Homo sapiens: one gene and its partner. The protein of the gene in region 1 interacts with the protein of each later gene in a biochemical or structural test. Each region holds a gene or a part of one and is shown on either strand. Other genes may lie near its edges. The genes, in order: CR2 and ANXA6.

Region 1 (10,272 bases):
GTTAACTTCCCTTTGGCTCCAAGAGGAGGTCTTCAGTGAAAACTGACATAAGAAGATACAGCCAAACTGTTTCATCACATCAGTGCTATACTTGGTTTCAGTAAGGGTAACTTTCGAGAACTGTTGTCTTTATACATATAGAATCTGCAGTATAATATATACTCAACTGAATCAATTTAACATCTTTGGTCTGCATTCCAGAAGACAGAGAAGAGTGGCATATATATGTTCAAAGCACACCTATGGATAAGATGTGATAATTATATATATATATATGTATGAAAAAATCTCTAATCATTGACTTTGGTGCTATCTGCTTTTTTAAAAAAGCATCTTTTAATTTCCCCTACAATAACACAGATCTAGCACTGCCCCAAAATACAAAAGAAGAAAAAGTCCTACATCTGCAACATTTAGATATTACTTTCAAAGTTTACTTTTAAACTCTTTAACTAGGCAGGGTGTGGTGGTTCACGTCTGTAATCCCAGCACTTTGGGAGGCTGAGGCAGGTGGATCACCTGAGGTCAGGAGTTCAAGACCAGCCTGGTCAACATGGTGAAACCCCATCTCTACAAAAATACAAAAATTAGCCAGGCATGATGTTGGATGCCTGTAATCCCAGCTACTCGGGAGGCTGAGACAGGAGAATCGCTTGAACCCAGGAGGTGGAGGTTGCAGTGAGCCAAGATCACGCCATTGCACTCCAGCCTGGGCGACTGAGCGAGACTCCATCTCAAAAAAACAAAAACAGAAACACAAAACAAACAATAACAATAAAAAACTCTTTAACTAGAAAACTCAACCACATATACTATCTTCCTTCTGCTCTTTCCATAGGTACCATATATCTATTTCCCAGAAAAACCTTGTTTTATTTCTAGATCCTGAAGTTTCAGCCCAACTCACCCCTGAAGCACTTTGGCAGTAGAGGATTCTGTTTGCTGTTTAGTTGACACCATATTACATTGCTGCCTTTCAGGGTAAAACCAAGCTTACACTTAAATATCATGTATCATTTTAAAAAAATGAACATAATCCAGATTCCACAACTCCATTTTCAACTTCTATAATTGAGCATTCAAGTAAGAGTAATACACTGAAGAGGAGGGTTGCTCCAGAGCTCCAGACATCAACTTGATTATCTTTGCTGGTGCAATGCATTGACTTCTCATCCAAGAGGTCAAACAGCTTTTCCCTATTACATCCAATATGGCACTGATGATTTCATAGCAAACCCCTCTCCCTGCTGCTGCTGTCAAAGTCCCATGGGGGATGGCTGGGAGTGACTTACAAGGAATACCTTTTTAAGGAGTAGGTGGGGAAAGAGAGAATATTATACTTTCTGAGAATTTTCTCTTCATTCTTGCAATCCAAACTGCAACTCAGCCTACAATTTACCTATTTTGTTGAAATTCTGTATCCTGATCTCAAAGATGATTCTAAATAGGAAGTAGCAAGGTCAAAAGATATATGGAACTGGCTGATAAAAACCGAAAAGCTATGAGCTGGTCACCAGTCCCCGCCCCAGACCACAGATAAATTGTTATAGAAGGGACCTAGGGTGGCTTACTTTTTGCATGGAATAAAGTTGGCAGTGTGTAATCTCCTGGAATGTTTTAGATGTAAGCATTTACTCACTATGAAATAACTTATAATCAAAGGACAGTAAACAAAGGAACGTGTGGTAGGATTGGGGGCCATGAGGAAGATGGGTAAGTCATAGCTGTGTGCCTAGAGCTACTCAAACCAAGTGTAAACCCTCCTGGCTACTCACTTTGGTGTGCAGATGCTCAATTTCCCTCTGGAAGGGGACAAGAGGAATTAAATAGGGTGCAATAAAGAGATTGTTTTACTTACATTCATTAAAAGGCATGTCATTATCCCAGGTTACAATATTGTCTGAGATAATACATGTAGCAGATGAGTCACCAAAGAGTAGATATCTAAAGACAAAGAGATAAGAAATCTCGCGGCACACGTTTACCCTGTAACAAAACTGCACATCCTGCACATGTACCCCAGAACTTAAAATAAAAATAAAAATAAAGAGTGATCATCTCCCAGCTAGACTTACATTTTAGAAAAACTTAGTTCTTTCTCTACTGAAAGAATAGCAGAGAATAGAATATCATTTATGACAAGCAGGGGTGACAGATTAAGGACTCATACAATTTAAAGCCAAATGAAATTCAAGCTCCTGGTCAGTAGCACTGGAGACTTAAAACTGGAAGAGAGCAGCCAAAACTTCCTTCTCTTCTAGGGATCCTCTCTAGCTGGTAATCTTGAAGCAGTGTCTCTGGAGTGGATCAGGGAGGTGATTCCTTTTTGCTTATTTATTTTAAAAAGTATGTGGCAATTACTCAGATCTCTTTTGGAAGAGTGATGGTTTCTGGTTGGAACTGCTGTTCTGGTATCCATGTACCCAGGAACTGTCTCCTGCCAACTCACCCTTTATTACAAGAATATGTCATTGTCAACCCAAATGCAATACCCATGTGTGTAATCACAGAGTCCTAAAGGAGTTCTCTATGACTCACACATGATTTATCTACAAAAGAAAACCAAATCAACCCAAACAGAATTTGAGGCTGGGATTCAGGAGACTTTTTGGAGACTTTTTGTGTTTTATATTAAATCTCAACCTGACTGGACTTGCTGACAGGCCTGCTTATGTTTACTCACAGAAATTCTTACATTTACAAAACTTTCCAACGGATCAGTCAACTCTAGAACACTACTTGTTTAATGCACACAGTCTGCATTTCTGTGCATGGATGCCAACTTTATTTGTGGTCAGTTATAACTTATAGTCTTCATTTTCCATTTTTATACATATTCTGTTAATCTATGATATCATCTACCAAGTCTTCTGCCTTAAAAATCTCACAGTGATCATTTCCTTTTTGTAACTCATCCTCTAACTCATCCTCTACTCTCTTCTCTTCATTCAATTACTTACTGAAGTTTAGTGACTGGACTCCAGAAATCTCTCTCCAAACCAACTATTTTGTCATTGCAGTAGTCTCTCATTGGATCACTGAATGACATAATTTACTTTTCTAATTGTTCTCCCTTGGGCTGGTACACCTTCTATACTACTGCACATTTATCTTTCTAAAACACAAATGTGGTCATGCCACTCTGCACATTTAAAAACTTACTATGACTTACCACTGTTTATAGGGAAAAAATGCATATATTTTTTTACAAGTAAGCTCCAATCCATTTAATCAACTACCATTCCTCACTATGTAGCCTATACTCCAACAACACTGATTTTTTCCAGAGACATCATGTTCTTGCACACTTATGCTTTTGCAAATGCTGTTTCCTCTGCTCAGAGGGCCTATAGTTCTCTAATTCTTCTAGGTAGCATTTATGATTTATTTCTCTATGACCTCATAGCACTTCTTAAATAAGAGAACTACCTCATAGTACAATATATATTTAAGAGTTGGCCTTTACAACTAGTGTAGGAGTTTCTCAAAGGCAAAGACTATCAGATTCATTTTTATGTCACTCCCAGGCCCCACTGTCTGGTCTAGAGCTTAGTATCTAGTAGTTACTTAAAAGTATTTTTTGAATTGAATGGGATGAGGATGAGGTAATATTAACATCTCTTGTCTCTAACTTCTAACCTCACCCTAACACAGTATGGATACCATAGATCAAAGTCATAAAGATCACAGGATGAATAGGTTTGGCCAGCTATCATGACTTAACCCTCATACCCAGTGCCCCTAGGAGTAAAAGGAAGCATGGAGCACTCAGGAGCCCTCTTCACTTGAGATGACATGTGAATTTACTGGTCTTTTATCTTAAACATAACATGTTATCTCATCCAGATACAGCGACAGACCCAAATATGCCTCTATTACAGGATTACTCACCTTTACAGAACTGCTGAGCATCTGACCACTTGAAGATCTCTAGGGAGGTGACAAAGAATGCCTCTTGATATACCCAAGAAAGCATTTGTATTTGCAAGATATCTCAACAGCAAACTTAAGATTGGTTACTCTGAATTTTAGGCTTAGCAAAAGGAAACCTTGGCAGAAACTTACCCTGACCTGAGGACCTGAGACAAAGGCTACAGAAACATAAAAACCAAGAGAGGCTAAAACCTCTTCTCTGCTTCTGCCTTGTTACCAATTATCCTGAAAACTTTGATCTTTAGAATGAAAGTCTAAAATAGGGCAATATTTTATGGAATGAAGAATGCATATCATTGCAGTAAGGGTGAATATACACAGAAATAAGCTCAGAGGTTCAGAGAATTTTTAGGGTAGACTTCAGAGATGGAGAAAGTAATTTTTCATAAAATTTCAGAAAATCCTCAGAATTGTTCCATCTCCTTCACCCTTACAAGTAAAAATTAGTGGTTTTAGTTTGTTTGCTTGTTTTTTCACAGTGAGGTCAGAGTCTGGGGAAAACAGGAAAGGCATGTGGCAAGGGCCTTGAAGGATGATTACATATGTTTTGATTTTTTTTTATAAGGGTGGTAGGGGGAGCGGATATTAATATTTTTCCCAGCTTCAATGAGGTCTTATTTATACACAAAAAAACTGCACATAACTAATGTACGCTATTTGTGAATTTGTGGGACAAAAAGGTAAAAATCTTTAAATACAAACTTTCCCAGGATAGCATAAGAAACTAAAGTATATAAGAGATCTTGTAAAAGCTCAGTACACATATGATCCTGAAAATTACTTTAATGAATTTACATAACTATCTTAGCTATTAAACCGTTAATGCCTAGAGAGGAGAAAATATGTTGATTATTCTTCATTATTTTATTCTGTTAATCTAGTAGAGTAATATGCCACCAAAGAGAACTCAGTAAATACTTTCTGATGGGAACTAGATAAAGGGACAGTCATTTCAACACAGATTCCTGTGACTTAAAGTAACAATATTATTATTAATAATGGAACAGAAGTTATTCTAGGAGATAGGTAAGAAACTATAGCAATGATACACTTAGGGATATAGCTGGAAAAGTCATTTTTCTATGTATGAGAACGAGCTCAAGTTTCAACGCCCTAAACTGACAAGCAGAAAACAAGAAGTTAACTCTTCTTCCAGATCAGATGGTAGTCCAGGCAAAAAAAGAAAGTACTCAGTTGTAAGGCCCTCCTAGAATAGCAGTGTATTTAAATATCAAATTTATAATCTCCTTTTTCAAACAGGTCTGAGACAGGTACGGGTGAAAGTCAAAGTATAAACATGGATGAACTGACACAAGGTCACACACAAAGCTCCCAAAACACAGCCAGACCTTAGCTGTGACCCCAAACTACTACTGGAGAAGTCACAAAGACTGGTTCTAAGAATAGGCATCATTATTGGGAGCCAGATATCACTATAGGTCCCCTTCTATTTATTTCCTCAGTTTCTTTAGTTTTCTCCATTAACAACTACAAAAGTCTCCAAGTGCTTACTCTGTGCAAAATAGCAAGATTCTATAAGGAATATCAGGGTTTGACCTCAATGAAGACAAACTTCATGATCCTGATACTACTTGTACTAGTGACTCTAGTCAAGTGACTTAATCTGTAATTATCAAATGTAAATAAGGACAATATCAAATTATCCTCCACAAGCTGGAAAACCAATTTAAATTTACACGATTTAATCAGTGGCAATGACATGGACGAAGATGGAATGAAGATCCAGAAATAGCAAAAGCAGAAGGGTGCTTCACAGCATAACTTTCCATGATGAAAGGAGATACGGATCACACTTTCTGGATGATAAAAAATGGGAGGGTCTCATTTCCAATAAGGAGACTTAAGGGCTATCTTCCTTTGGGAACATCAATCCTCATTAGTAACGAAAGCCAGAATCCCAAGTCACAAGGCAGATCATATCAGAAAAGGGAAGGTTAAGCCATGGGCCATCAAGTAATACAAATTTTCTTGAGGGTCACTGGACCCTCTTCACATCTTTCTGTAGCCAGGAGTAAAACTCAGAGGAGATCATGACTGGATTGAAGATCAAAGATGGTGACTTGACATTCAGACACATATCCTTCCAACCATGTTTAAAACTAACAGGCGAAGCAGTTTCTGAGTTAAATGAACAGAGATATATTTAATTACTTGGGCCCAGGGACTTTACCTGGAATGGCTTGGAAATCCATTTGAAATGGATGAAAAACAAACATATAGGATAATAAAAATAAAACTGAAATTTTAGTCAGAAAGCAGGTAGGAGGGAAAATCATTATTGAGACTGATAATTCATATAATCAAATACCTTAATACTGGGTTTCCTGCCTATTTGATAAGCAAGTTTTGAATGATGATGTGAAAGTTGTCAGAATCAAAATAGAGTCACTAATGTAATAAAAAAAAAAACAACAAAAAACACCTTCAGAAAGCCAGGGAAGGCCATGAAAATAGGGTTCTCATGCTTGTATACCTGTTAACCCAAACTATCATAAAAGACTGAAAAACCACAACCGTGCACAAAAGCCACTGCAACCCTACAAGAACATCCTTCCGGCATCTGCCTGTATAACCTCAAACTGGCATCATCCTTGTTATTGGTCTTTGTAGCCAAGGATAATTATTCTAAAACAATTATGTAATCCTCATATTTTTCCTTTAAAAACCTTTGTCTTCTTTTACTTCCTTGAATATACACACAATTCATAATCACACACATATTCCCATTGCAATGTTCTATTCCCAAACAAATATCTTTTTTTTTTAGGGTCTTTCCCTGTTTGTTATTTAGTTTAACAACAGTTATGCATATTAACCAAAGTTCAGTCCTAAGCACAGGAGATGTATCTGTGAACATCAGAGACAAGGTTCCCACCCTCATAGAATTTATAATCCAACAGAAAGAGACAGACTGTAAATAGATACCAGGAAATAAATAAGAAGGTGCTGAACATGAAATATGAAATAGAGTGATATGTCACAATGTAATGCACTGGAAGGAGAAGGGACAGGGTGGCATGCAACTTCAGTTATGATGGTTAAGGAAGGCCTGTGAAAAGGCAACATTTAAGTTGTGACTGAAGGACAAGAAGGAAGAAGGAAGCAGCCAGGCAAATTGCTGGGTACAAGTATTTTAGGCAGAGGCCTAACAGGAGGAATGGATTTGGTATGCTCCAGGGACAGACAGAAGGCAAGTGTGGCTGGGATGCAATGAGCAAAGCAGAATGGTCCACGATCAAGTCAGAAAACTCAGCAGGAGGGATCATGAAGGGCTTTTTAGACCACAGATATGTGAATATTATCCTGAATAGAAGTCATTGGAGAGTTCAAGCAGGAGAATCACAAGGCCTGACTTACATTTTTAAAGGAATATTCTGGCAATTGGGTAGAGAGTGGATCGAACTGCTTACTTTTAGAAGCAAAGAGTACAGTTTAGGGCCAAAAAAAAAAAAATGAAGCTTGGCAAAGGATTGAGCAGTGGATATATTTTAGAAATAGAATTGGCAAGATTTTTTGTTGTTTTACATGTGGGGCTGAGGAAATGGGAGGATTCCTGACTTCTAGACTTCTGACTTGGGCTACACAATTGATAGAATTACCCTGTTCTGAGGATGGAAAGCCTGAAAAAGGAGTGTGTGTGTGTGTGTGTGTGTGTGTGTGTGTGTGTGTGTTGTGGCCTTGAGGTAGGGAATTGTGTTCAGAATCATTTCCATTCAGACTTGGTATATCTAACACACTAGGCATCCACATCAAGATGCCAAGTAGGCAGTTTGCAGCTCAGGAGAGAGGACAGAACTATAGATAATAAATATGAGTCATCAACATATAAATAGTATTCAAAGCCATGAGACAAGATGAGTTGAGGTTTTTTAGGAAGAAGAAATGAAGAAAGAAGAGGCTCAGGGCTGAGCCCCAAGACCCTCTAATATTTAGAGATAGAACAAAAAAGACTAAGAGACAACAGGGAAGTATGGAAAAAACAGGTAAGAGTGTCTTGGTTTGGAAGATGAGAATGATAATGGTTTCAAGGTAAAGGAAGTCATCAGTTTTTGCTGAAAGACTGAGAAAGATTAACATAGAAAAATGACCATTGGATTTATCAGCATAAGGGTCAGTAGCGACATTGCAAGAAACAGCTTCAGGAGACTGTGGGGAAGAAGCCTGTCTGAAGTGGAGAAGGAGATAACGAAATTTGAGTAAGTAGTCAATGAAAAGTTTTGCTGAGAAGAACAAGAAGAGGGACAGGAAAATGGAGTTCCAGTGGGTCATGAGAAGGTCCATAAAGGATTTCCTGGGGTATACTTAAATGCTGGTGGGGATGATCATACAGAAAGAGGTACATTGATGATGCAAGGTAGGAGATATCTGCAGAAGTAAAGTCCTTGCAAAGGCAAGAGGGTATGGAACATGATCATGAATACAGGAAAAGGAGCTGAATTTGTCAGCAGAATGGATACTTCTTTCATTGTTATAGGAGGAAACATACCAAGATTTCAATTCATATTTATTGAATTCCAAATTACAGGCTATTGATAGGAACTCAAATCAGGAAATAAGGCAGATTAAGGTCTTGCACTCATGGAACTTGTATTCCAGTGAGGGAACAAACAACAAACAGGTACATAAATAAGGAAGAAGGTTTTAGATGGTGATAGGTGGTCTGTAGAAAATAGAACACAGTTTTGTATTGGAGAGTACCCTGGAATATGGATACTTCAGACAAGAGTCAGAGAAGCACAACAGAGGGCTGAGCCTTGAATGTCAAGGAGACAGGCAAAGAATAATTTGTAGGAAGAGCATTTCAAAAGAGAGAATACCTAGTGCAATTGTGCTCAAAGAATAAAGAGAAGGCCAGTGTGGCTGGGGCAGAGAGAGTGAGTGGGGTACAGAGAATTTCAGGGAGAGGCAGAAGGCCTCAGACTGGAGAATAAGGGGTATGGGTTTTATTCTAATGTGACGGGAAGGCCTCAGCAGGTTTTCTGCAGTGGAGAACAAAATCTGATTCTAGATGGAGGTAAGTTTGTAAGTTGGTAGGTTTGTAGCCGATTAGAAAATGGGAGCATTCTTGTTTCATGGTTTTGTTTTCTCAGCATAGGATAAAGTTAGGTGGCCACTGAAGGCTTGAGTAAAATCTAGAAGTGTAGGAAATTTGAAACTGTTTATGCAAATAGACAAAAGGAAAAATAGGAAAACACTAAAAAGGAAATTTGCTTCCATTGACTTTGCTTATAGCAGTGTGCCCTATAGATACTTGTTGCAGAATCTTCTAGAGTGATTGTTAAACCTCAGCTTTCCTGTGCTAACTCCAAACCTATGAACCTCTGGAGGGGGAGGTGGAACCAGGAACCTACATTTTATAAAGGTACTTTAGTATTTTATTAAGCACACTCAAGTGCAGGAACTGGCCAAGAGATGATGTGTGGAGAGCATGCAGTAGCAGTAAAAGTTAGCAGTGGAGAGTGGGCAAAGCATGAGCCATGGGAGACAGGTGGGGAAGACCATGAGCAGCGCATACAAGACAGGCAGCTGGAGAAATCAGGGGGTGTGAGCTTCGGTGAGATCCCATTCCAAAGGGCTAGAAAGGCTGAAGACACCAGATTTTCTTCCACTGGAGGCCTTTTAGATTTTTGAACAATGGAGTGAAATAATGAAAATATATATATTTCTTAATTTTTTGTTTTCATAATTGGAAAGTGACCTATAGGTCACTCTTTAACCTTTCCAATCATAAGAACCAAAATCTCTTAAAAGAGATGAGGTTGTTACACAGGTAATTATAATGCTTAGGATGGGAATACTGGTACAAAAATGAGAAATGGACAAACAACAGAAGCACAGTAGCTTGAATGGCTGATAGGTAGACCTGGTATTTCATGGGGCTCCAGTTAAGTGACCTACATGATGCTGCTGCTGTGGCCCTGAATTGGCAGGACTGGTGAAGAATTTGATTTTCAGTTGATAATATCCTCTTTGAAATTTAGAAATAGGTGAGAAGTCAGGGACGTACTCTGCTCTTAGAAAAAGTGTGAATATACATTTGTTCAAAGGGAGTTAATATGCAGAAAAAGAAAAGAGATGAAGATAATGGTCTGGAGAAAGGTTTAAGGGTCAGGAGACAGTAAAATGTCAGGAAAGCAAAAAGTTGTAATAAACTAATATGTGCTGTATTCCAGACACCTCAATAAGCTGGATGTCCATAGAAACAATTGGACACCCAGCTTGTTAGCTTAAATGCTGGCTCCATAAAATCAAGTCTGTACAGGAGGCTTATTACTGATATTTAGTAGTAACGACTAACATCCAACTTTCTTTGCTTAG
Region 2 (10,272 bases), on another chromosome or scaffold:
TGTCCCAGTTGTCCCTGCCTAGACCACTCTGAGCCCCCTTGTTCCTCCCCTGAGTAGCTCTCCCTAGGCAGCCTCCCCTCTCTCCTCAACCTAGGTGGGGTGCCCTCCTGCATGCCCCAGAGCTCCTTTACTGCCCCACCAGAACACTGTGCATGGAGGGTGCCAACTCATCCCATAGGAGGAGGGTTCCCTAAGGCCCTGCCACCCTGGGACTCACTTGCAGGAGGTCTACTGAACCCTAGTCCATGGCAACAAGAAACCACAGATCAGCCAGGCAGAAGGCATGGCCCAGGAGCACTGGACCAAGGTCCAAAGATCTGCACCCTAGGTCCTGGCCTCTCTGATCTTCCAGGGCCTGGCCTGTCCACTTGGATCATCTAGAATCCTGCAGTTCAAATGCCTTTCAGGAAGTAGCTCTAGTATGACTACACATAGGAAATGGGGAACAGTGAAAGTTCCACCTTGGATTTTTGCCCATAATCAGTAACATTTTCTCCTCCTGGTCAGAGAGGCCACTTGTACACACAGTATACTCCTCAGTGGCTGTGAGGAAGGCCACAGCTAGGACTTCTCTGAGGGTACTGATCCTATAACATCCTGTGCTCTTCAGAAACTGTGAATATCCTATAAGCCCAGGTTCACTGGGGGCAGTCATGATGTCAAGGATGGATGGAGTTTTATTATTACTGAATTCAACCATTCCGTAAGGGGAACATGAGGCCCAAAGACCTCACAGACAGCTTCTGTCTGTGCATTCTGTGGCCAGTAGTTCTGGGTTGGAGTAAGGGACAACGGGGCCCAGTCCCATGATTTTCTTCAAGATCCCCAAGTTTCTTCTCCCTGCCAATCCCATCGTCACACTGACTGCATGGCTTTCTCCAACGCCAGCCAACAGACAGCACCCTCAGGCAAACCCCAACAGAGTAGAGTGGGGTTTTTTGTTTTTTGAGACTTGCTCTGTAGCCCAGGCTGGAGTGCAGTGGCATGATCTCAGCTCATCACAGCCTCAATCTCCTGGGATCAGGTGAGTTTCCCACCTTAGCCTCCTAAGCAGCTGGGACTACAAGTACATGCCACCTTTGTATTTTTTCTAGAGACAGGGTTCTGCCATATTGTCCAGGCTGGTGTCGAAATCCTGCGCTCAAGTGATCTGCTCACTTCAGCCTCCCAAAGTGCTGGGATTATAGGTGAGAGTCACCGTGCCCAGCCTCAACAGAGCACAGTCGAGGTCAGAATCCTACCTCTGACCATGGCCAGAACCTAGTCTCAGCCACATGGGAGTAAAAGTTCTCAGGTGCCTCCAATTCTATTGCCCGGCAGAACAGTCAGACATGAGAGACTGAGGTTAGAGTCTCCCAAGCCAAGGAAATTCAATCCCAAATGGGTGTGACAGAGAACATTTCTATATCCAGAGCAGAGAAGTCAACAAGGATGTCTTTCTACCTGTCAAGTATCCATTTCCCTTCGTCAGGCCAAACAGTTCAGGTGGGACCAACTCCACCTCCTTGCTCCAAGAAAGAACAGGTTACTCAGGCACAGCCAATGAGAACCAGACCTGGGCCTTCCCCTGGAATCACTGGGCATGAGTTATGTTGTTTTCTCCCTGGGCTGCCAAGACAGCAGAATGGAAGCCTGGAGCTGCTGATGACTACCATGCCAATGCAAGGAAGAACCTACCCAAGAATGAAGCCACCGGAAGAAGCCCAGCTCACACAGGCAGAATCTTGACACTATCATTTGGAAACCCCTGGATTCAACCAGACCTGAAGCCCTGGGCCTCTCTGTCAGATAAGCCAATACACATCCTTTTCTGCTTAGGATATTGTGGGTTATATTACATTATGGTGACCTGCATCTGAAGAGCCATGACTTGTAACAGGAGCAAGCAAAGCCTAAGAACCTTTCCTCCTTTTTTCAAGCTGAAGGTACCAGGGGTCTCTGTAGCAGGCCTAGTGGCTCCAGGAGGATCCCAGGCCCAGAGAAGGCTGAGTACCACCTTCAGGAAAGAGAGGCCCCTTACCTGTGCTGGTTTGGCCATGGTCTCCGGTTCGCAGCAGAATCCACTGTAGAGAAGAAAGACAGCATGTGAGATTCCCCCCAACTCTAACCATCCCCTTTCTTTCCCTTACATTTCCTCCCTCTGCTGTTTTCCAGCTGCCCCCAGCCCTTCAGGTTAAATCAGACCCAATGACCCAGCTCAAGGCCAATCACATTTTTTTCAGAAGACAATGGACAGACTAGATGGTGTCCAGACATTCACAGCAGTATGGGAAAGGGACGCGGATCCCCAAGGGAGGGCGGGCATGGCACTGACCCACCACTGACCCCTTGACTCCTCCACACTAGGCAGGGTACCTGTCTCAGCACCGTCTCAGTTACTACTCTCAGAAATCCTTCCACACATCAGATTCTCCTTTTTTATAGAGAGGAAACTGAGGCTGGAGCATCGCAATAAATGAGCCAAGATCACACAGCTTAGAACTGAATTCAACAATTTCTAGATCCCAGAGTCTATACTATCTGCACCATGCATGCCCCCTTTTCAAGTCAACAAGGATGGCTTCAGAACCCAGAGCTTGACCGCCTGCAGATAGGACTCAAAGTGCTTCCAACCACCTGCTGCAATATCTGAAGGACTGTCATTCCTGAACAAGTGAGTATGCACTCATTTAGCGCCTATCCTAGTCAGGCATTGCTCTGGGCACTGTGCATGCAGAAATATGAGCAATTTTTTAAATTCTGTTTCTCTAGAGCTTATGCTGTAATGGGAATGAATAACAAATGCACTCATCAGGCTGAGATAAGAACTACAGAGAAAAGACAAGGCTTGGTCAGGAAAGTGACAAGGGGTGTAGTCCCAGGTGGAGGGGTCAGAGGATCTCACGAGTGTGACTGGGGCACACCGCGGGGTGGTGCAAGTGAGGAACCACCACGAGCTCAGTGTGGCTGGTGTGGTAGCAGGGAGTGGTGTGGTAGGATGTAGGATCTGAGACCGGTGCCTGAGGCCACTGTAAAGACTGGATTTTTCAGGCTGGTCGTGGTAGCTCATGCCTATAATTCTGGCACTTTGGGAAGCTGAGGTGGGAGGATAATTTGAGCCCAGGAGTTCGAGACCAGCCTAGGTAACATAGTGAGACCCGATCTCTATTAAAAAAAAATAAAAAAAAAATAGCTGGACATGGTGGCACATGCCTATAGTCCCAGCTACTTGGGAGGCTGAGGCGAGAGGATTGCTTGAACTCAGGAGGTGGAGGCTGCAGTGAGCCAAGGTTGCACCACTGCACTCCAGCCTGGGTGACAGGGCAAGCCCTGTCTCAAAAAAAAAAAAAAAAAAAAAAAGACAGGAACACACAGGAAAACAGGACACATATCTCATTGAAAATGGATAAGGAATGCGGGTGGAGGATATCAGGAGACAGGGTCTACAGTGAAGGAACAAAGATATGATACGTAAAAATAAATGCAAAAAGAGATGTAACTGATTTGGGAAGTATAAGAGAAGCAGGTAGGGAGCTGGCTAATGAGCACTCAGGAGGGCAACAGATGAAAGTTTAACAATCTTCTTAAGAGAAGGAGAAGAGAAACAAAGGACCACTACTTTCCACTTTAAGCAGGTCTGGGCAATTTGATCTCTTTTTTTTGAGATGGAGTCTCGCTCTGTTACCCAGGCTGGAGTGCAGTGGCGCAATCTCAGCTCCCTGCAACCTCCACCTCCCGGGTTCAAGCGATTCTCCTGCCTCAGCCTCCTGAGTAGCTGGGATTACAGGTGCACGGCACCACACCTGGCTAATTTTCGTATTTTTAGTAGAGATGGGTTTCACCATGTTGGCCAGGCTGGTCTCGAACTCCTGCCCTTGTGATCTGCCCTCCTCAGTCTCTCAAAGTGCTGGGATTATAGGCGTGAGCCACCAAGCCTGGCCTGATCTCTTTTAACAATGTCTATGTATTGCTTTTTAAAAGTGAACATAACAGAGGCCAGGAGCAGTGGCTCATGCCTGTAATCCCAGCACTTTGGGAGGCCAAGCGGCAAGGACCACCTGGGGCCAGAAGTTTGAGACCAGCCTGGCCAACATGCGAAACCCCGTCTCTACGAAAAAATACAAAAATTAGCCAGGTGTGATGGTGTGTGCCTGTAGTCCCAGCTAGTCAGGAGGCCGAGGCAGGTGAATCGCTTGAGCTGGGAGGCAGAGGTTGCAGTGAGCAGAGATGGCACCACTGCACTCCAGGCTAGGCAACAGAGTGAGACTCTGACTCAAAAAAAAAAAAAAAAGTAAACATAACAAAGTCAATCAGATTTACCCAGTAAGACCTAAAAGGAACAGAACTAGGAGAGTAGAAATCATGGAGACATTTCAGCTCAATGCCTTCCAGTTCTCCACATATTCCCTGTTCCCCCAAGACTTAGGGAAAATCTTAGCCATGTGACCGTGGGCTTATTGCTCATTTTTGAGTTCAAGGTGATCTCAAGCACAAAACTGAAGCTTTCCCTTTTCTGCTTTGTAGGGTTGTTGGAGGATAAGACCTAAGTTATGTCAAAGGCAGCACATAAGAGGCCAGGCACAAGACCTGTTCTTAGTAAATGGTGATATTTACTGTGCTGGTGGGAAGTTGAGGACAGGGCCTCTGTCGTGTTTGCCTCTGTGTCTTCACTGGCTGATTATGAGTTCCCCAAGCTGCAGTCAGCTGAGGACAGTCATCATATGGGGTTGGGAGTGGAAGGCAGAGGACGGATCTGCCTGCAAATGCAGCTCAGCTCAGCTCAGCTTCAGGAAACCTTGCTGTTTCCCTGGCAACCAGGGGCCCCTTGGTACAACTGTGCAGCTCTCACCAGGAAATGGAAACTGTACCCCCTTTCCAGTGTGTGGTGGGGGGAGGAGGGGGCCCACATCTACCCCGGGATGAGGCTGGAGGCCAGCTCTCGGTTTCCTCTGACCTGGGGGATAGTAGGGGGAGACAGTGAAGGAAGCCCAAGGCTAGCAGAGAACCAGGGACTGAATGAGACCCAGGAAGTTAGTTGACACAGACAGAGGGAGGGCTGAGGCCTGTCACCTGCATCTCCAGCCTTGAAGCACTTTCCTCTGGGCTTGTTGCTGGCAATTTCAGCTGCTGGCTGCAGCCCAGGCCCATCTGGAGGAGCTCCCCTTTCCAAGGAGAGATGGCTTCAAGGAGGGGCCTCTTACTGTTTGGGAAAATATTCTCAGCTCTGAGAGCAGTTTCTGTGTGCCTTGTGTGAGTGCACAGTTCATATGTAAAAAGCAAGCTCCTTCCAGAACTAGATGTTCAGACTGCAGTTCTGAGGGCCAGTCCCCCTGCTGATTCCACAGCCCCGCCTCTGAGGGTTCTGGGAAGCTCCTGAGCTAATCATAAACACACCATTTACCCTGGCTTTAAGATGGCTTCTGATCCCTCCCAGAGCAACCTAGACCATACTGCTCAAATTGGCTGAATATTTTACATCTAGTGTTTCTGAATCCCACAAGGGCCCTTAATAATCCATGACTCCAAGTCCCTCATTTTCTAGACGGGGTAAAGGCATCTCAGAAAGAGAAAGTGACTTGCCAGGGCCCAGGAAGCAGCCAACATCTCTGCCTAGCAGCCCTCGATCATAACAAGTCCCCACACAACTGTGGGTCTTGGCTGCAATGGGACACCAGGAAGAGTCCAAAGAATAAGACCCTGGTTCTGGTTCCCAGTCTGCCCCCATGTAACCTCAGGCAAGCCAGATCCCTCTCTCAGCCTTAGTTTCTTCATCTCTAAAGTGGGACAATACATCACTCCCTCTTTGGTAGGATCTATAGTTAGAGGCTTTTAGAGACTTCAACTCAGGATTTTCACAGCAGAATATCAGTCCTAGGAGGGTCATCTCCCAGGCCACAGGATTCCTCCCCATCTCCACCCGCCAATATGCAACATTCATCACCTTGGTTGAAAGAGCTGTTCAAGACTAGTAAACAGGGTCATTCCAGACCTGTGCCTCTTTCCTCCCAGGAACCCTGATTCTCTCAGATCTAGATGAGATATACTGTGACGACTTATCATGACTGATCATTCGTGAAACCCACACAGGAGCAGAATGAATGGCCTGGGTGGCTTTGTGCTGCTGTGGCCACCCCTTGCCTCATCCTTTTGCCTGCAATCAATCACGTTTTCCTCCTTCCCCTTCGAGAGTTCCAGGCTGACTCTAGAAGGAACGGCTCACCACTGCCCAACCACAGAGATGTGGATAGGGGAAGGGTTTTATCCAAGTCATGTGAAGGCATGGGCCTTCAGGCACAGATGTTGCCCAGCAGTTTGTGATGTAAGTAAGTTACTTAAACTGAATCTCAATTTCCACATCCGCAAAATGCAGATAGAAATACCTATAGGTACTGAGAAATAAATGAAGTAACGGGGGGAAAACACTTAGCACAGTGCGTGGCACACAGTAAAGGCTCAATAAATGGTGGCTTTTATTATAATAAGCCCAAACATTTACAATGGAGGCAATGTGGCATTAGAATCAATGCAGGATTTGTGGTCGATGCCCAAGTTCAAATCCTGACCATGCAAATTCCGAGCTCAGTAACTTGGGCAAGTTATGGAATTTCTCTGCCTCAGTTTCTTCATCCTGAAATGACCCTCTTGTAAGGTTTTTGTGAAGATTCAATGAAATAAGGCAGGTAAAACACTTAGCATGGCCAGGTACAGATTAAATGTTTAACAAACGGTGACTTCTGTTGCCACAATCATCATTATTACAGCAGTAGTCTCCAAAAAGGGGTAATGGGTATGACAATCCACTGGGGTGCAGGACAAGAGTATCACCACTTTCCAAATGTTTTAATCTTGCCCTTTTATGTCCCATTTTTATTTGTTATACATGTATAAAGTTAAAGAAAATATTAGGGGTGCAGGCTGATAGAGGTGCACAGTCAAAATCTGGATTCAATGGAATGGAGGCAGGGGCATGCCAGGAAGAATAGTAACACCAGGGTAAGAAAAAGCATTTCTGTCATCGAAAGGTAGCTTGGGCTGTGGAGGAACAGAGTACACTTTTGAGGGAAAGGAGATGTTGAGCGTAAGGGGGTGAAACCAGGTGTGGTGGGAGGGTGATTTGAGAAAAAAGAAATAATATGGAAAATCATGCAAAAAAACCCACCCAGACCTCTGCCTCAGGGGAGTGCCTGAGGGGCTACAGCCTGAGCCACAGCACTCCTCTGCTCACAAGTCTCCAATGGTGCCCCTTAATACTGGGCCTCTAAGCTCAGCAGTCGAGGCCATTGGTTCTCCTTACTGACTTCTTTGCCATCACCACTTTCCTCTTTGCCCTGTCTTCCCTGCTAAACCAGGAACGCCTTCCACCAACATTTTTAATCCAGCTTTCCAGAATCTATACCAGTGCTTTTCAATTCTAGCTTCACTAACAGAACCTGGGGAATTTTTCAAAACTACCAAAGATTTAAGGTCAGCCCTTAGAGATTCTGACTCAACTGCTGGGGTGAGGCCTGGCCTTTGGTAATTTCTAAAAACTTTCCTAGGTGATTTTAATGGCAGCCAAGGAGGCTGAGAACCACTGTTATCTGCTGGATTCAAATGCCGCCTTTTCTAACAAGCCAGAAGGTATTCCCCCGCTAGGGTGCTCTGAAACCACCTTGATTTGACTGGCTTTGGTCAACCACTGTGGATTTATCATTTCTCCATTAGATAAGGGCTGCCAGCCTCCAAGGTATTATGGGAAAGAATCTGTACTTCAAAGGAAAACCCTCCAGGTTGTCTGACTCGAGACTTTCATTGTCTTTGAGTGATTTTACAGGTCAGTAAGTTGCAAATAATTGATGGTAACACAAAGTAATTCTAATACATACTCCTTGCCCTATTTTGTAAAGGTCCAATTGATTTCCCACCCCCTCAGGTAAAAAAAGAGTTTTGTCTCTAATTGCACATTTCTTTCAATACAAATGTGTCTTTTGAGCTGGTTATAACATCGGCCTGGTGTGGTCATTGATTAATAAGTAGAACAGCACATGATCATTTTTGTATCTGCATGAGTCATAATTTTACACTTTTTAGAAAATTACTGCATATGCCTCTTTCCTGCACCCCCTCCCATAGGGCGTGGCTCCTATGGATGGTTGGGGGTAAAATGCACTAAGTGGCTTTCATGCTTTCTTTAGTGACCTCAGCAAATGGAACCATCTACTATTGGTTTTCAAACTGTGCTTTACTCCTCTTTCTATAGCCAGGAGATAAACTAGAGAGGTTAAGTCACTTACCCAACATCAGAAGAAAATCAGTCATCAAGCAGGGGCGTGTTTTTCCATAAACATTTATTTGAGCACCTCCTACAAACCAGGCCCACTGGTAGAAGTTGGGGGTTGAACAGAAAATGAGACAGACAAGGCTCCTGGCCCCACAAAGCTGGTGATAAGGTGATGTCATATGGCAGTTTGCAGTATATATATATATATATATATATATATATATATATATTGATCCCATACACAACCCATAACCAAAGAAAAATTGAGTATTTACCATGATAAACAGAAATATACCTTTAAAATATGACATTAAAAGTACATTTAATAAGGAGTCCAATAGTTTCTTCCTGTACCCCCAAAAGATCATCTTCAGTGCGTCCTGGGGTATATCCATCCCACTTAGAAGGCCCCTGGCCTATAAAATCTAGATCCTTCCCTCTTTGCCCTTTCTTGCTGGCTTCTCCCCCGGTCTGCAGGAAGACACCCAGGACCCGCTCCATAACCCTCCAGGAGCCTTGATTCTGATGAAGCTGGGGTAAATGCCTTCCCTGGCTCTGTGCGTGGGCACACCCCCCAGCTTGACGACTGGGGTTTCTTAGGGAGCAGTGTCTTTTCCTCTCCTGACCCAGAACCATTGATCCTAGGACTGGACAAGGCCTCAGGAGATCATCTCTCTGCCTCAGGATTGGAACTAGTCTAGCCTAGGTTTGAACCCCAGCTTGGGTCACTTTTGTGAGAGGCAGCAAAGTAGTGTCTCACAGTATAGATGCTGGAGCCAGACTGCCTGAGATTGAAGCCTGAGGGTGATATTTAGTAGCTGTGTGGTGTTGTGCAAGTATTGAGCCTCTCTGTGCCTGTTTCATATTAAAAAAAAAAAAAAGGGATAAAAATAGCACCTCCCTCATAGGAGTTATGATGAGGATAAAAAAAATTAAGACAAGTCTAGAGCTTAGAAGAGGACCTGGCACACAGGAAGCACTATATTTTATAAGCATTTGTCATTATTATTTCTTCCTTAAACTGTTAAGGGCTGGAGTTTCCATGTCTGCAAAATAGGCATTAATAACAGCGTCTAACATAGCAAGGCTTCAGCCGGGGCCTGGCAAATTTAAGGGTTCGAGAGGTAATAGTGGTTACCATTTTATTGCTATTATTTAAGGACCACCAGGACATGGATTTTTCAGAAGAGGAACTTGAGGCTCAGGTCGCCTGCCTTCTCAAGCACCACACCCTTTTGAGATAACACAGCACTTTTATATCTGCCATCTTACAGCCTCATGAAGGTATCGATCTCATTCTCATTTTGCAGATAGGCAGGACATCCAAGGAACCTATAGACAGTCACTCCCCCATAGCCAGTCTCTGTGGGGGCTTCTCAACTCCAGGAGGAAAGGGAGTGAGGCTGGATTCCAAGGCAAGTTTATAGGCATAAAGACACCCCTCCGACTTCCTCCCCTCTATTGGCAGGAGAAGGGGTGCATGCATGCTCAGGAATCACGGTAGAGACCACATCCTGTGCTTTGTCGCCACCCAGGAAGTATATCGGAGAGGCTGGGTGGGGTGAGGCTGGTGATTCCACTGGGCCTCCCCAGAAAATCCTAGAATGGTAGAGCAAAAGCCATTCAGACCCAACCCATTTTATTAATACCAGTGGGGTGTCCTGGGTATATGTCCTATCCCTGTAGAGAGGAAGGGGCTAAGCCCCAGAGGGGTAGTAGGTGTGCCCAGGGCGCCTAGCTGATTAGTGGCAGGGCAGGGGCTGGGTCCGAGGCTGGATCCTGGTGGCCCAGGGCTCCCTCTGGATGCTGCAGTGCGGATGTGCCAGTCACTGGCAGCTATCCAGCACTGCAGTCTCCCCCACTTCATCCCAGGAGTCAGTCTCAAGAGGCCAGGCCTTGGGCTTCCCTGGCCCCTCCTCTGCACACTCACATCTACATTTTGCCCCAGCAACAGCTGTGGCCCTTATCCAGAAACTGCAAGTATTTTCTGTATCTCAGCAGATGCTGCCTTAGGAACAAAGGGTAGATAAGGC

The links.
Region 2: the proteins of CR2 (region 1) and ANXA6 form a complex in vitro, tested with the Homo sapiens proteins (one study listed by BioGRID).

What each region holds. Positions count from the first base shown.
Region 1 is NC_000001.11:207,455,413-207,465,684, reverse strand, and holds part of CR2 (complement receptor type 2 isoform 1 precursor), read right to left. Parts: intron 1-10,272. UniProt on the Homo sapiens protein: Serves as a receptor for various ligands including complement component CD3d, HNRNPU OR IFNA1. When C3d is bound to antigens, attaches to C3d on B-cell surface and thereby facilitates the recognition and uptake of antigens by B-cells.
Region 2 is NC_000005.10:151,145,864-151,156,135, forward strand, and holds part of ANXA6 (annexin A6), read right to left. Parts: intron 2,064-10,272; 5' UTR 2,039-2,063; coding exon 2,021-2,038; intron 1-2,020. UniProt on the Homo sapiens protein: May associate with CD21. May regulate the release of Ca(2+) from intracellular stores.